Regions from separate parts of the Homo sapiens genome. Here region 1 is linked to region 2. A link means that fine-mapping ties the variant in region 2 to the expression of a gene that starts in the linked region. Tissue or cell type: esophagus muscle. Region 2 holds a variant in brackets; the other region holds the start of a gene. All regions are shown on one strand. Distances are between the middles of the regions.

The links. PIP is the estimated chance that this variant, and not a neighbour inherited with it, causes the effect.
Region 1: TAGAP-AS1 starts here. The variant in region 2 is fine-mapped to the expression of TAGAP-AS1 in esophagus muscle (GTEx, PIP 0.98). The same link has a PIP of 0.9 or more in tibial nerve.

What each region holds. Positions count from the first base shown.
Region 1 is chr6:158,995,557-159,003,556 of GRCh38, forward strand. It overlaps TAGAP-AS1 (TAGAP antisense RNA 1), which reads left to right and starts at 4,317. Exons shown (of 5, transcript NR_183546.1): 1 at 4,317-4,836. It overlaps RSPH3 (radial spoke head 3), which reads right to left and starts at 4,646. Exons shown (of 8, transcript NM_031924.8): 1 at 3,879-4,646. The coding sequence starts at 3,994. RefSeq lists enhancers at 3,389-4,360, 3,845-3,994, 4,015-4,064, 4,095-4,164, 4,335-4,494 and 2 more.
Region 2 is chr6:159,040,077-159,048,425 of GRCh38, forward strand. TAGAP (T cell activation RhoGTPase activating protein) reads right to left here and starts at 4,915. Exons shown (of 10, transcript NM_054114.5): 1 at 4,803-4,915; 2 at 4,044-4,128; 3 at 3,902-3,955; 4 at 3,513-3,579; 5 at 2,002-2,168; 6 at 1,278-1,439; 7 at 647-756. The coding sequence starts at 4,070. TAGAP-AS1 (TAGAP antisense RNA 1) reads left to right here. Exons shown (of 5, transcript NR_183546.1): 4 at 843-979; 5 at 1,722-2,980. RefSeq lists enhancers at 576-1,775, 2,349-2,618. The variant C/T (reference allele first, on the strand shown) is at 4,516.

The sequences.
Region 1 (8,000 bases), 45 kb before region 2:
TATGACTCAGACTCCTGTGCCTTCTTCTTTCACTTTATTTTATTTTTATTTTTTTTGAGACAGAGTCTCACTCTGTCACCCAGGCTGGACTGCAGAGGTGCAATCTTGGCTCACTGCAAGCTCCGCCTCCTGGGTTCATGCCATTCTCCTGCCTCAGCCTCCCGAGTAGCTGGGACTACAGGCGCCCGCCACCACGCCCGGCTCATTTTTTTTTGTATTTTTTTAGTAGAGACGGGGTTTCACCGTGTTAGCCAGGATGGTCTGGATCTCCTGACCTCGTGATCCGCCCACCTTAGCCTCCCAAAGTACCGGGATTACAGGCGTGAGCCACCGTGCCCATCCTTCTTCTTTTACTTTTAAGGCCCCACTGTGATTCTACTGGGCCCACCTGGATAAGCCAGGCTAATTTCCCATCTCAAGATCTCCCATCTCAAGATCCTTAATGTAATCACATCTCAAAGTCCCTTTTACCACATAACATGTTCACAGGTTCTGGGGACTAGGAAGAGGACATCTTTGGGGAATCATTATTCTGCCCTCTACGGTGATTTTAAACCTTATTTGACCTGAGTAAAAATAAAAATAAAAAAAAGGTATGTTCTAAGGTTTTAATTCATTTGCATTAAAAATGTTATTTTATTGGAAGGGTTATATATCCTTTACCAAAGGATTTGTAAAATGAGGGAATGTCATTATCACAATTGTCTTTTCACACATGCCTAAAGGTGAATTTAATGGCATTTATGATCACCCAACTACCAAGAAATACATAAAAGATGTATTACATTCTCTTGTTTGTAAATGAGAAGACTAGTATTCAAATGTTCTCTTTCAGCTTTATAATCCTATGAAAAGGTGGAAGTTCTTGATTCACATTAGACTTGTGTTAAATTTCTAGACCCTTTCAAAGGAAAAATCAGATACTCCCATTTCTGTATTTGTGTAACTGACTTCTCATACCTAAGTAAAACTTCACAGCTTTCCAATTAAGTTTCATTTTTTGGTTTCAGCCCAGTTATATATACCCAATCAAGATAATTTAGAACCTTGACTCCCTTCAGTCATAAGTTAGTTATCCATTCCAGCCATGTGTCATCTGAAAAACTGAAGATTTATCCAGTTCAACATAAAATTTTGAACATGAAAGAACTAAACGACATTCTAGGATAGAGACAGATTGACACAAAAGCATACTCTTTTTGGATATGGTCATTTAGTTACTCACCAGCAAGTACTAAAAGTACTGCTGTGGTCTGGATATGGTTTGTCGTCTCCACTAAAACTCACATGGAAATTTAATTTCCAATATGGCAGTGTTGGGAAGTGGGGCCTAGTGGGAGGTGTTTGGAACATGGGTGGATCCCTCATGAATGGCTTGGCACCAGTTCTCGCAGTAGTGAGGGAACTCTTACTCTCAAGAGACTGGATTAAGTTCTCACAGGACTAGTTCCAGAGACAGCAAGTTGCTACAAAATGAGGTACTTCCTCCTGTTTGGCCACTTCCCACGGATCTGCTTCCCCTTTGACCTTCTCCATCATGTTATGAAACAACAAGAAAAGCCCTCACTAGAAGGCAAGCAGATGCCAGCACCATGCTCTTGTACTTCTCAGTCTGCAGAGCTGTGAGCTAAATAGATCTCTTTATAGACTATCCAGTTTCAGATACTCTGTTAGAGCAACATAAGATGGATTAAGACAAGTACTCTCCTGAACACTTTTTTTTTTTTTTTTTTGAGACAGAGTTTCGCTTTGTCGCCCAGGCTGGAGTGCAGTGGCGTGATCTTGGCTCACTGCAACCTCCGCCTTCTGGGTTTAAGTGATCCTCCTGCGTCAGCCTCCCAAGTACCTGGGATTACAGGTACATGCCACCATGCCCGGCTACTCTCCTGAACACTTAAAAAATATTTTATTCATAAGGATATCAGAGGAGAATATTATCCTTATCCATAAGCAAATTATGGATAAAATATCAGTATTTTATCCATTAGGATATCAATGATTATGATTTGTAAGATAATACTTCCTCAAAATTGAGATTTTTCTGTCTTGTGCATTACTCAGATATACTAATAAACTAATCAATAGATTACTTCAATATACTAATCAACTATCAAAAAAGTTGTTCCTAATGAACCACCATTGATTCTTGTTTCTAATCTGTTGGTCTGATTGGATAGTAATGATTTGTAAGCAACCACTTAAAGGCACCAGAAAGTGTTTTTGGAAGGATTAGAAAATTTTAAAATTGAATCCTTTTCTAATATAAATGATCACTCTTCAAATTTAAATTTTCTATTTTAGTTTTCTTACAGTGATAGACATCTCTTATAGAAAAAGAATTTGTTAGAACAAGATAATTATGAATTTAGAAAGAGCGTTTGAAATAAGCATCAATAATTACATTGTTGATGTTCAATCATCAGTTTGACAATTCGTATTAAGTGCTTACTATGTACCAGGCATTGTACTAGGTGAACAAAAGATGCAAAAGTTCCTGCATCCATGGAGCTTGCATTCCTATAAAGTTCTGCTGAATTCAACATTTGAGGCTTATGGAAAGAACTTTAGAGAACCGTTTAACTTTAAGAGAACTTTAAGAGTTTATGTTTTTTTTGCTGGGTGTGGTGGCTCAGGCCTGTAATCCCAGCATTTTGGGAGGCCGAGGCGGGCGGATCATGAGGTCAGGAGATCGAGAGTATCCTGGCTAACATGGTGAAACCCCGTCTCTACTAAAAAAATACAAAAAAAAAAAAAAAAAAAAAAAGAGCCGGGCGTGGTGGCGGGCGCCTGTAGTCCCAGCTACTTGGGAGGCTGAGGCAGGAGAATGGCGTGAACCCGGGAGGTGGAGGTTGCAGTGAGCCGAGATTGTGCCACTGCACTCCAGCCTGGGCGACAGAGCGAGACTCCGTCTCAAAAAAAAAAAAAGAAAAAAAAAAAGGCTTATGTTTTGTTTTTTTTCTTTCCTATGTATGTTTGAATATTTGCAACTGTTCATGGATGTAAAAACACAAACTGCCGTCCGGGCGCGGTGGCTCACGCTTGTAATCCCAGCACTTTGGGAGGCCGAGGCGGGCGGATCACTTGAGGCCAAGAGTTTGAGACCAGCCTGGCCAACGTGGCAAAACCCTGTCTCTACTAAAAATACAAAGATTAGCCGGGGGTGGTGGAGGGCGCCTCTAGTCCCAGCTACTTGGGAGGCTGAGGCAGGAGAATCGTTTGATCGGGGAGGAGTGGGGGAGGGGGGCGGAGGTTGCAGTGAGCGGAGATCGCGTCATTGCAGTCCAGCCTGGGCGACAAGAGCGAAACTCCGTCTCAAAACAACAACAGCAACCACCACCACCACCACCACCACCACCACAAAAAACCAATCTGTGGTCCTGCATGGAAGAATAATCTTACTCCTGCTCAAAGCCTGCCGAAGAGATTTACTCGGCTCCCATTTTGGATATGCTACTGTTGGATATCTTTGCACCGCGGTCTCCTCATCTGCATAATGGAGTTATAAAATCAACTTCACAGCACTGTGGATTAACTAAGAAAACGTATTTGAATGCCCCCCGTAAGGTGCTCAGCACGTAGTTGGCCCTCAATACACACTGGTACAATTCAAACTTTGTGAAATGAGCCAATTCGTGTACATGTTAAGGACCACGGCAGCAACTCATATCACTAAAAGTTAACTGATGCCCAACCCATGCCCCTTCCTGCTTCACTCCTCCACACCACGGGAGATTCCTTAGGGCAGAACTTTTATTTCGGCAGAGTGCAGCCAAGGGAAGACAGCATAAGCAGCTTTTTTGCCAGGGCGAAGGGGCCAGACCCCGGCCTGGGGATGGGGTGCAAGTATGGACCACACAGGGGCTGGCTTGGTCACTCACGGCTGCGTCAGGCTGTCCCGGTAACGGCTGCGCTGGCAGGGCAGTGCTCGGGGCCGGCTGGTGTAGGTGTAGGTGCTCGGGGCCCGAGAGGTGCGATCAGTCAGCGCTGAGGCCATGTCCGGGGGCTGACTGCCTCGCTTTCGGTGGAGCTTGGCTTTGAAGCAGGTGGGCGCTAAGGTGTTGTGGGACCCGGAGAGATGTAAGTAGTGCCAAGGGCAAGGATTCCGCGACGCGAGGAGAGGCGACAACAAGGGAGGCGGGCGGGACGGGAGGTTACCAGCGCAGGAGGTGGGAGCTATACTGGGCTCGCTCCCAGCACCACAGAGACCAGCTGCGGGGGCCGCATCGGTTGCCCAGCAACCCAGGGTTCTGTCTGGGGGCGGGAACTCCGGGCAGTTCCGGTCCCCAGGTTTCCCGGGAAGGACTGCGGCACAAGGGACTTCCGGCTCTTGACTCCGCCCAGCCGCGCCACCCAGGTAGGTGCGCCTGCGCTTTGCGAGGTTCCTGGCTAGGGAGGCGGCCTTGGCTGGCTTGACCGTCATCCTTGAGGCCTGCGGGGCAACGGTGGCTGTCCTTGGCCCGGCTTTGGAATGTGGCTTTGCAGGGCTGGTGTTGGCGCCATTCTCGCAGGCCCACGTGCTCCTGCTCTTCCAGGGTGTCCTCGGCTGTTTCTCCTGCCGCGGCGCAGCAGCGCTCCCAGGCTGCCCCCGCGATAACACGCCCCTGGCAGCCAGGCTCCCAGCTCTGTTACGTGCCCGGGCGGGGAAGAGCTTCCTGGTGTCTCCCGGCTCCTGCCCTTCTCCCGCCCCAGGGGCGGGCTGCCGCCGCCCTCTGCAGCTGAGTCAGTGCAGTTCCTCACCTACCTTCTCTGCTCACCGCTGTGTGCTAGCAATCGGAGGACCCTTGGCACACGGAGCGACAGGGGCCTCCCCCACAGACACCTCATTTTGGGAAAGAAGTGAGCAATTTATTGAGTCTTAAAAAATACAAAGGCATAGTTCCCCTTAATCTATCAGGCTTCCAGCTCTAAAGAATGTCTCTAGTATTGCGGGGTGGGGCTGCGCTTAAAAACGCAGACGCTTTGGTTTTAGTACCAGCAACGTTAAAAATCTTCTATCTTGTATGAGTGAATGTGTATCCCTTGTGATCAGTTATTTGCATTTGCAGTTACACCTTCATTCAGCTAATTGCTGTCTTGATTTGAATCCAGGTTCTAGAATGTACTAGCTCCGAAACCTCAGGCAAGTTAAATGTTTTTGTGCTTCATTTTCCTAATCCACAAAGTGGCAATAGAAGAATTTATCTCTTTAGGTTTTGTCTTGAGGATTAAAACCGTTAATACTTAGAGCTGTGCCTGGTAAATGGCAAGCCTTTATATTAAGATCTGGACCGTTCTGTGCTTTGAAGTGTATGACCTAAAGCAGATGTAGGCATTCTATAAGTAACACTAGCATAAAGGTGTATGGTAAATTCTAGAGGTGAAAACACTCCCAACATATTTTAGGTCTGATCATTTAATTTTGAGGTAATTTCTGAAAGGGCTAGAGGAGAAAGTGACATTTAAGTTGTGTTTGATAAATGATAGTATTTTAACTGGCCAGCCTCTTGGGGGAAGTGCATTCGGAATGGCTTGATCAAAGGCTCAAGAAGCCCAAGGTGCATTTGGAAAACTGTAAGCAAGGTTTGTGTAGATGAGTTGTAGAAATATATATAGACAGGCTGACACCACATCGTGGAAACAGTAAACACTAGCATATTAATTAGAATATTTTTTCCCTCAAGTAACAAAAAACCAATTCCAAGTGGCTGAAATAATAAGGAATTCATTATTTTACACTCCCCAGGTTGGTTAACCTGGAGGGTAACTTGGGGGCTCAGCACATTATCAACAACACGTTTTTTCCCCTACCTTTCCACTCTGTCACCTGGGTTGTTGGCTTCAACAAAGTAGTAATAGAAGTATCTGCTCTTTTGTCTTTATTGGAAGAGCAAAACCCCCTCGTAAACTCCCAACTGACCAGAATTACATCATATTGATTTAAGCTTAGGATCTATATAAGACCACCATATTTGGATTAGACCAGGTAACCGGTCTTTCTAGGCCTCCAAGAAACACTTGGCCAGGGAGGAGGAGAACAAATTCTGTTAGGAGGATGTTGGGGCAGAATTGAGTGGGTATTAAGTGGGTAAACAATAGTGCTATACCAGCCACAGTGGGCTTTATAAAGAAATTGATAGCCACTATAGGTTCTTGTACAAGTTTCTTTCTTTTTTTTTTTTTTTAGATGGAGTCTCGCTCTGTGGCCAGGCTGGAGTGCAGTGGCGCGATCTTGGCTCACTGCAACCTCCGCCTCCCCGGTTCAAGTGGTTCTCCTGCCTCAGCCTCCTGAGTAGCTGGGACTACAGGCGTGTGCCACCCCGTCCAGCTAATTTCTGTATTTTTAGTAGAGGCGGGGTTTCACCATGTTGGCCAGGATGGTCTTGTTCTCTTGACCTGGTGATCCGCCCTCCTCAGCCTCCCAAAGTGTTGGGATTACAGGCGTGAGCCACTGTGCCTGGCCTGTACAAGTTTTTATCCACAGCCTGTTTCTCTTCTTGTACTTTCTCCCAGGGCAGTCCCATTTCACGTCTGTAATTTCTAGTACCACCTATATACTCAGGGTAGCAAAGGATGTATCTCTAACCTAGACTTCTCCCTCAGGTGACAGTCCTGGATATCTGACTATTTTGTGGACAACTCTTGGATGATCTGAAACTGAAAGATTCATTCCACAAATAGTTATGTGTATCTAGTATGTGCCAAGCATTGTTGTTTTCTTGTCCCTCGTCCCCACTCCCCTGGTGTTAGTGGGGATATAGCAGTGAAAAACAAAAACAAACAACAGATTAAAAGTCCTGCCTTGACAGAATTTATATTCTAGTGGAGGAGTCATACAAACAAGAAAAGTGAGTACATTATGGGTGTTACATAATTATAATAGCTAATTCGAAATAAAGCAGGAAATAAGGCTAGGTGCTAGGGGCATGGGAGACCTATCAATTTTATAGTGGTCAGAGAAGGCTTCATTGAGAAGGTGACATTTGAGTAAAGACTTGAAGGAGGTGAAGAAATGAAACTTGAGACTTGTGACTAATTGTCACAGCATTCCAGGTCAAGGAAGCAGCCAATTCCTCGTTCTAAGGCAGGAAGTCGTGTTGGGGATGGCAGTAAGAGTGAGTGGAGCAGAGTGAGCACAAGGAGGAGCATTCGGAGATGAAGTCAGAGGCTGGGCCGTGCGCCCTGTTGTAGGTCAGTGAAAGGACTTTAGGTTTTACTCTAGGGTTAAAAGTCCCTAAAGGGTTTTGAGTAGAAGCTTGACATAGTTTGATTAAAAAAATTTGTTTTTTCTAGTTGTTTGGTTGAGAATAGACTGAAGTGGGGCAAAGGCAGAAGCAGAGAGACCAGATAGGAAGCTGCTCCCAATAAGGCTGGTGAGAGGGTGGCTTGGATCTGGTGTAGGTGTGGTGCTCGGGCCCGAGAGATGCAGTGAGTCAGTGCCGAGGCCATGTCGGGGGACAGACTGCCTTGCTTTCAGTGGAGCTTGGTTCTGGATCTGGGACAAAAGTGGTGGGAAGATCCCAGCTCAATTTTGAAGGTAGAACAGATTGGACGTGACGTGGTGCACGAGAGAAAGAAAGGCAAAAGAGATGAACCTAAGGTTTCTGATTAAATGTTAGACATTGTGTAGGAAAAAAATCACATAGAGGCTCTGGCAAAAAAAAAAAAACTAAATAAATAAATAAAAAATAAATAAATAAATTGCATAGAGACTGTGGCTGATGTTGTGTTTCTCCAGAAAGGATTTAATTTTATTCTGGCAAGCAATTAGAGTAGGAACGGATGACTTTTTTTTTTTTTTTTTTTGAGGCGGAGTTTTGCTCTTGTTGCCCAGGCTGGAGTACAATGGCACTGTCTTGGCTCACTGTGGCCTCCACCTCCCGGGTTCAAGCAATTCTCCTGTCTCACCTCCCAGGTAGCTGGGATTACAGGTGTGCACCACCATGCCCGGCCAATTTTGTATTTTTTTAGTAGAGACTGGGTTTCACCATGTTGATCAGGCTGGTCTCGAACTCCTGACCTCA
Region 2 (8,349 bases):
TAAACTTTCATAGGATGTGACAACCATGCTGACATTTCAAAGCTTGGGTTTTAGAATTCTCTAGTCACTAACAGATCACACTTTCCATTGCATATGTTATTATTTTTACTCTCACTGGAATGTGTTATTATATAGTTTTCATTTGGGTTAATTATAAGAAGATGAAATATGCTGTGAAGTTTTATGAACAAAACAACTGCCCCCCACCACACTGTCTGGCTGCATCCTGAGGGATGTTTTATGGGAGAACTGTTGCCTTGCATGACACCAGTCAGTGTAGCTTAAAGATAATCCCGAATTTCTACACTTTGCTGGTGAGCCTGTGTTAAAGTTCTCAGGTCTGATTTTATCTCATACCTTTTTGAACATCTTACATTTTCAGACTTCCCTACCTCTTGGGATTTGTGAGGATTGAAGTTCGCTTTCTACTTTTTGAAGAAATATTTCATTTGGCTAAAATTAAAATTCAAAAGTCCAGGGCACCCTCTGGTTTTTGTTCTGGGAGTGGACGAGCAATTCCACTCGGATTCCCTAAACATCACAATTCTCATGGAACAGGGATCATGAAGCATTTAGAAAGCTGTGTAAAGAATCAAAAGACGGAGGTGATGTGGCCTGGCAATGACCGATGACTTTGATGACTTACTGTTTCAGGGCCTCGATTCTGTCCTCCTCGTCCTGCATCTCCAGAGCACCCATCCACTCCTCAAAGAGGTCGCTTGAAAGTAGCTTCCGGGGGATACTTCTGAGGAAGTCCTGGGGGATGAGAGTGGGCTGTTGGCCTATTGGTACTGTATGATGTCCCATGTCCTTGTTTTCACCCGGTTTTCGTTCCATCGCAGGGTGCTCTATGCTTAGCCCATCATAGATTGTGGCCCTTCATTCCTGCATTTGATGAATCCAGGGAACCCTCTCTCCAACACCCTTGGCCTCTCTGCAACTTTCTAACATCAGGCAGAGTCAGAGGCACCATCCCCAGGTGGGTGTGTTCTGAGGGGCCACTGGATTTTGACGTATGGATTCTGCCACGGAACAATCAAATTGCCCGTACTTGGCAAAGTTTTGGGAGAGCAGAATGCATCACTTTCTGTTGGAATCTGAGGTCACAGAAACAGAGGTGCTTACTAAATAAATAAATAAAGGGCTTAATGAAAAAAATTAAACTCCAAGATCAGTGTACCTTGCTGTGTGGGGAGAAGAGCCTATTTCTTGCATCCTGAGAATGAGTGTGTCAGGGCCCCTTGGCAGGTTATTTGGCGCAAGTGTGTTGAACTCACCTTAAAGACCACAGCGAGGAGGTGCACGGGGAGCCTCTCCAGATCCACCGCATCCCCAGAGTTGAGCTCCTCCTTCAGCTCCTTACGGGCTTTCTCGTTGGCTGCTCTCCTGAATATCCCTTCCGTTGAAGGGCCTTTAAGGCATAGAATAGTGAGAATGTCCTAAAGGAAACAGCAATAGGAACAGGAAAGGGTTACCCTTCTTCTTTAGTATACTGAGATAGTCTTAACAGGAATATTGATGTCAGATTTTGCTTTCAGTCCAGTTGCTGTCAATGGCCTTCCTCAACCCTGCTATTTTTCTAAGAGGAGGCAAATTGTGAAAGCTCTAATTTTGCACTTTCTAAAATCACTTTGGAGCTCTCTCCTTTCAAATACTTCCATATGAACATTGGATTTCAGATCACAAAGTCTATATTCTGTTTCCCCCTTTTGACTTTTCAGAAGCTACAAATCTTCAGCATTCTCCACTCTGTGAAGTCAGAGGAATGGCGGGACCATAGCTCTGAGCTCATTGGCAAATACAACTAATTTCAATTTCTGGAATGGAAGCAGTCAGATATTCTTCTGACTGCACGCGTATGTGGGAGTGCCATGTTGAAGAGTGGAAAATATGGAAGATCAGTCCCTACAAACTTAATAGGAGAATGACATTCAGATTTCCCGAGTATTTTGCATGTCCAACTGAAAACTGAAGTAGGTTTATGAGAGAATGCACGCCTACCTGGATGGGTCTGGGGAGTGTGTCACTGTCACCGCAGATAATTGACAAGGGCTGATCAAATAGCGATGCTTTCAAGTCTGTCTCCAAAGCCCCAGAAAAATCTGATGCAGGGGAGAGCCTTCTCATGAGAAAGGGCCAGGACAGCACCTTCTTTCTCTTCTTAACTTCTACAGCCAAGAAAACAAGGCAACGAGAAAAATTAGACTACAGTGTTAAGAAGCAAAGATCCAGGTAAGAAAATGGGTATCGTTGGCCGCATAATGTGGTCAATAGTATGCGATGTGAGAAAAATAATTTTGAAAACTTGAGAAAGCAAAGGGCGTGAATCTTAATCTAGAAAAACCAACCGATAAACAACCACACTGTTACCAGGGCAACCAGTTCCCTAAACAGCAACACCAGAGTTCCTCAAGGCCTCCACCTTTCCTGTTTTCACTCTTTCCAGCTGTTTGCTACAGAAAATTAGCAAAACCTAACTGTGCTGATCATAAACAACCATCTTAACCTACTGGCCTGAATAACTATAGAGGAAATTTCTGATATGAAATAGATTATTTTGATTTCCTCCTTTAACTGGCGAAGAAAACGAAACTTAAAAGGTGAGGAAGTGACTTGCTGAATATCTTTTCGAAGGCACATAGCAGGGCTGGCTCCAACCCTTTGCAGCCACGCAGGCACTAAACAGCCACTAGAGGGAGCTAACACCATTTTTCCTTCCAGGTGACTGGTCACCTTGGGTTTTCCAGGTTGCTGCTTTAGGACAGAGGCAAATACGAATCGCTGCGGGAAGCCTTGAACCTAGATCTGGCAACTGGGAATTATCAGCAAAACGTTATCAAGATATTCTGTCCTTCTGAAATCCACAAGATGTGTGTGCAATGGATATTGCAATCTCAAACATTTCCTTCTTTCTTTTCTTTTCCTTCCTTCCTTCCTTCTCCTTTCTTACTAATTATAAAGGCTATATTTTCTAAATGCATTGGCATCTGTTTCTATACATTTCAGATTGGCAAGTGGAAGCATGATGAGAAAGAAGTGGCCTGTCTTTATGGTTCAGGAGAACTGGGTCAGGGTTACGCTATAATGAAATGCATTATGAAAAAAGTTGAGAGTGAATGGTGGGTCCTTTGGGATTTGAGATCAGCAACAGTTGCTTCATAGGCTCTTGGATGCATTCTCCATAAGAGAAGGAAGAAAATGGAAAAGACACTGTGTGTTTTTCAAATGTGTGCATGCTAATTGTCGAAACATACATGGCCAGGAGATTGAACCGCATTAAAAACGCTTGGCAGAACTGGGGATTCTCTATGGAGAGGCTCTTTCCTTTCCCAGCACTCCCTGCTCTAGTGAGTTGGAGCATACCTGCCATTTAAGGGTTAATGTTCTGCGGTCTTTAACAGAACAACTTATACAAAAAAATTCCTAGTAGAGTAAAAGCGCTGTGGTTTTGCAAACCAAGAGCACTGGTTGTTAGCACTTACATAAAAGATCGGTATGTTTTTAAAACTCACCAATGAGCTGGCAAATACTGTCTTCACTCTCACATGATGCCAACAGGGGATGTTCCTTGATATCACCCTAAAAACATTTTTATTTCAGTTAAATATAGTGACTGAAGAAACCTATCGAGTCTTTCCCCACAAAACACACATACAGCATTTTATTCATATTAAAAATGAAGTCAGTAGAGTGCATTGATGTTTTTTCTAGCTTCTAGAAGCAATATTAAGGTCTTGATTGTCATCATATAAGATCCTAATTAATGTGCTTAATTTACTACATGTGTGATGTTAGTTTACTACTCTTATAATTACTATTCAACCCAAATAATATTCAATTAAAACAAAGTTTTCCACCTTCTCACAGTACAGATAAAAAGTCTTAAAAATTGCTTTCTTACCTCTGATTGACATTCGATTAGTGTCTCCATATTATTGGCGTTTAGTGTTTTTGACTAAAAGAGAAAAAATAAAATTAGGTAAATATCTTTTGGCCCTTGCCTGTAGGAAACGTGAATGAATGAATGTGAGAGGGGCACTCACAGCATTGTGGCTGCTTCTCAGCTTCATCAGTATTGCGGCTGACTGTCCAGGGGTGGATTTCACTCCCGTGTGGCTGTGCCTCTGTCTACAACGAATCACATGGAAAGGAGTTAGGAGGGACTCACACAGTAGGCCACTTTCAGCGCCACTTTGCCAAAGCACAGAGTTTGAAACTATTTATTTATTTTTCTCTTTTGCTATTTTTTCACTTGCCTTTACTTTGGAAAAAACTATTACATAGACAAGTTTTCATTTAAAATCAGTTCTGTTACCAGATGTTGTATGTTGTTAAGAGCAGCATCTGAACACAATTATTTCTAAATTATTTAAGTCAACTATCTTTACCACTCTAAACGTTGTTACCAATTTATTCCGTTCCATCAAGAGATAATCTGGATATCAATTACGTTAACATTTTAAATTAACATGAACATTAACTTTTTTGGTGGAGTGCTGACTATATGCCAGCTGT[C/T]GTAGTAGGTGCTTTGCATGGATTTTCTCATCTAATCCAAAAAGGAAAAAAAAAAAAACATATCCCTAGGATGCTAAAATAGTAAACATGAAACAAAGATAACATTTACAGAACTCCTACACCAAAAAGGTGCAGCCTTCACGTTGAAGCAAAGCTTTGTCCTGAGACTTTATAAAGTGAGAGCATATTCCACGGGATAGCTGTTTTCTGTTGCCTGTGATCTGAGTGACCTGTGACTTGCGAGGCAGCTTGTAATTTCTAGGCATGTTAATATATAGTGTACTTACCCTTGGAGGGTCTCTAGCCAGAGTTCTTTTACATCCGGTGAGCTGTAAAGAATGGGAGAAACAGCATAACTCTCTGCTCCTTCTAGTCCACTGGGAGAGAGAGAGACCGAGCCGGTCTCCCTTCACATGCTCTGCATTATAAGCGAAGGGGCGGGCAGGTGGAAATTCAGAATATTACAGAGACCGGAAAGAACATCATGGGCTGTCACACGGACGGAGCCAGCCAGACACTGGAGAGCTCTCGCTTCCTCATTCCTTTTAGGGCAGCTATGTCTTTTTTTTTTTTTTTTTTTTTTTTTTTTTTTGTGTCTTCCACTTCAAAGTAAAAAATCTGTAAACTACTAGGAGTGGAAAACATGACATTCAGCCCATAGGTGAAGGCTCTGATTAATGTCATAGGTGGGATGTGTGAACAAGAAATTGTGTTATTCTGTGCATAAACATCACTTTATTTTCTAAAGTGGTAATTTCAAGTGCCTCTTTTTGCATCCTGTTTGGGTGCTCTTTCCCCTCCCACGTGCCATCTGCTCTGTCCACCAGCACCACACGTTGATTAGCACCCCTGGATGTGGGACACTGTTACAGAACCAGAAAGAAACCCAAGACAGTCCCTTCCTTGAGGAACAATCACCGTCCAAAGCCAGGTTAGTTTCCTTTGGAAGTAGAAAGAAAACTCCCTCGAGTCAGTTGTCAATATAGTAACCCCCTCCTCCTTTCTGTAACTCCTGGTCAAAAGTATTGATACTTAATTTACAGTCAGAGCAGCTGTCGTTCTGACACGGAAGGAAAACAAACAAAAAAATTCCTTTGATCAGACCAACTTAAAGTAGGAAAGAGATGGTGAATTTCATTTGTGGATCACTCTTCTGCATAAGAGAATTTCTGATCTTTTCTGTAGATCAAGGGCTATATATGAAACCACTCAAATGCCTCGACACGAGAATGGATGCATAAATTGTGATCCATTCACATAGGGAATGAATGTTGTATAGCACTGATAATGAACAGCCTATGACTATAGCCAACAATATGGTTGGATCTCATAATATGACGCTGAGCAAAAGAAGCCAGACGTGAAAGTGTATATCCTGCCGGCTCCCATTAATGCAAAGCACAAAATTAGCAAAAGTCGTCTGTGCTGTTGGAAGCAAGAGTAGCAGTTTCCCAGAGGGGATGGTAATGACTTCCAGGGGCCAGCGGGGGGCTTGGTGATGGTCCATTCTTGATCTGGGTGGTGCTAGGCTTATGTGCACACTTCCCTATTTATGTAATTTTTCAATAAAAAGTTTTAAAATAACTTGGCTTCATTTATCATCAGCATCTTTAATTTTAAGACTTTTCCGCATTGTCAGTTCTTTTGTCATTTTACTGAAAGGAGGTGATTATGGGGCAGACTTTGGGAAACCGAAGCACAGAGAGGTCGAAATTTGCTCTGTAACTTAGCGGCTCGGTGGGGACCTAGGGACAGATCCTGGTTTTCAGGCTTCCAGCTGGGGGCTCCCTCTCTGAAAGCCACCACAGTGCCAGAGTTCACCCAGTGTTCCCAGGGCAGCTGTAGAGGCCACCACTCTTTCAGCATCCCTCTCCTGCCTTTATAAACCTCCAAAGTGAACTCACTGATTTTTTTAATTGAAAAAGGGCATTTACGCTGTGCCCAGCCTAGTGCTAGGCATATAGTAGGTACTAAATAACTAATTTCTGAATATATACATTTCCTTATAAAATAGCCAAAATAGAATATTACTATAATGTTCTATATATCATAGAATATATATGTGATGTATATTCATTGCTAGTATGTATTTTCTAAACTTTTTTTTTTCCCGACAAACGGACTTTTCAAATTTTTGTAAGAAACTTAATGTACTTACTGTTCTTTCTTTTTTTTTTTTTTTGAGATGGAGTTTCGCTCTTGTCACCCAGGCTGGAGTGCAATGGCGTGATCTCGGCTCACTGCAACCTCTGCCTCCTGGGTTCAAGTGATTCTCCTGTCTCAACCTCCTGAGTAGTTGGAATTACAGGCACGCGCCACCATACCTGGCTAATTTTTGTATTTTTAGTAGAGATGGGGTTTCGCCATGTTGGCCAGGCTGGTCTGGAAATCCTGACCTCAGGTGATCCACCCATCTTGGCCTCCCAAAGTGCTGGGATTACAGATGTGAGCCACTGTGCCCAGCCTCAGCATCTTTTAAAAATACATAACATGAATGGTTTGATGACCTGCAGAAATGGTTACATCGACGGACTTTTCTTTTTCTTCTGGGACCTACCATGCCTAGTTAAGCACCCAGGGAACTATCTAGGATGAAAAGTTAGTAGCAAATACGGCAACAGAATTAGGGCCCCTCCATTTTTTGAAACAGAAATATGTTTTGGCTCTTCTTATTGACACAACTGATGGTGGGAAAGCCCAGAGGGAGGTGCCATCCTTTGGGGTCCCTGGGAGATTTTGACAGTCAACATCTAATGAATAGGTACATTTTGTGACTGAAGGAAAGCCACCATTGTTGGCTGGTGCTGCTGGGGGACTGAGGAGACGTTCTCCTTTATGACTGTGGCCCCGCCTGCATATGGCGCCTACTGTGGAAAGAGAAAGAGTTGTGAAGGGCAGGTGCTGCACCCTCAACTCTGAAAATCTCACAGTAATTTTGATCGCAGTTTTCCGAGCACTAGGAGAAACATTTATAAATAAAGTGTAAAATTTGGAAGCAGTCATGCCAAAAGTTAGAAAAAAAGATGGAAATGTCAGATTCACTTTTTCCATATTCTTGTCTCCCACACATCTCTTTGAAAAGCAAGCTCTCATCGTCCTGCATAGTAAGAGTCTTCAGAACGTGGAAAGGAACTTCAGTGGCTTTTGCTGGGTTGGGCTGAAGGAAACCCCGGTGAAACCCACACCTGTAAAGATGCTTCTCACAGTGGGACTTTTATCGCTTGGGTCCTGGTCACAATCAATTTTTCTGCAAATAATTGGCTTTGCTTTTCTTGTGGTGAGTCTCTAAGGACAGTGAGTTCCGTTCTGGGGACTGTGAGTTCTATGCTGTGTACATGTGTGCTTTGGAGGGTGACTGGAAGCACCATCGTTCCTTCCCATACTTTCAGGCTCAGTTACCGCTTCAGTCTGGACTGTTGTGAACGAGAATATGGAAGTCATTTTCCCCACATTGTTTACCCAGCTTGCCTGGGAAACACCAACTGGAGGATTAGAGTCCGGCTCTTCAGTTTGAACTCACTTTCCCTTTCTCTTCCTGGGACCACCCAGTGATTCAGAGCCCTGCATTCTGTAATGAGATTAATGTCAACAGTTTCCTGCATTGAAGATTATTTTCCCAAAGAGTTCACGATTTCCTTCAGGACTTCTCCATCACCCCAGTGTCTGGCTACCTAATGACTGATTAACAGGTTGATTTTCTAGAAAACTCAAATTACAATTTCTTTTTTTTAAAAAAGGGCAATCCAGCCTTTTCTCTGATTATCCGTCCTCCCCATCTCCCACTTGTCCTATGTTTTAGCCACACAGGCTGTTGTCATCCCCTAAAAGTGTGCT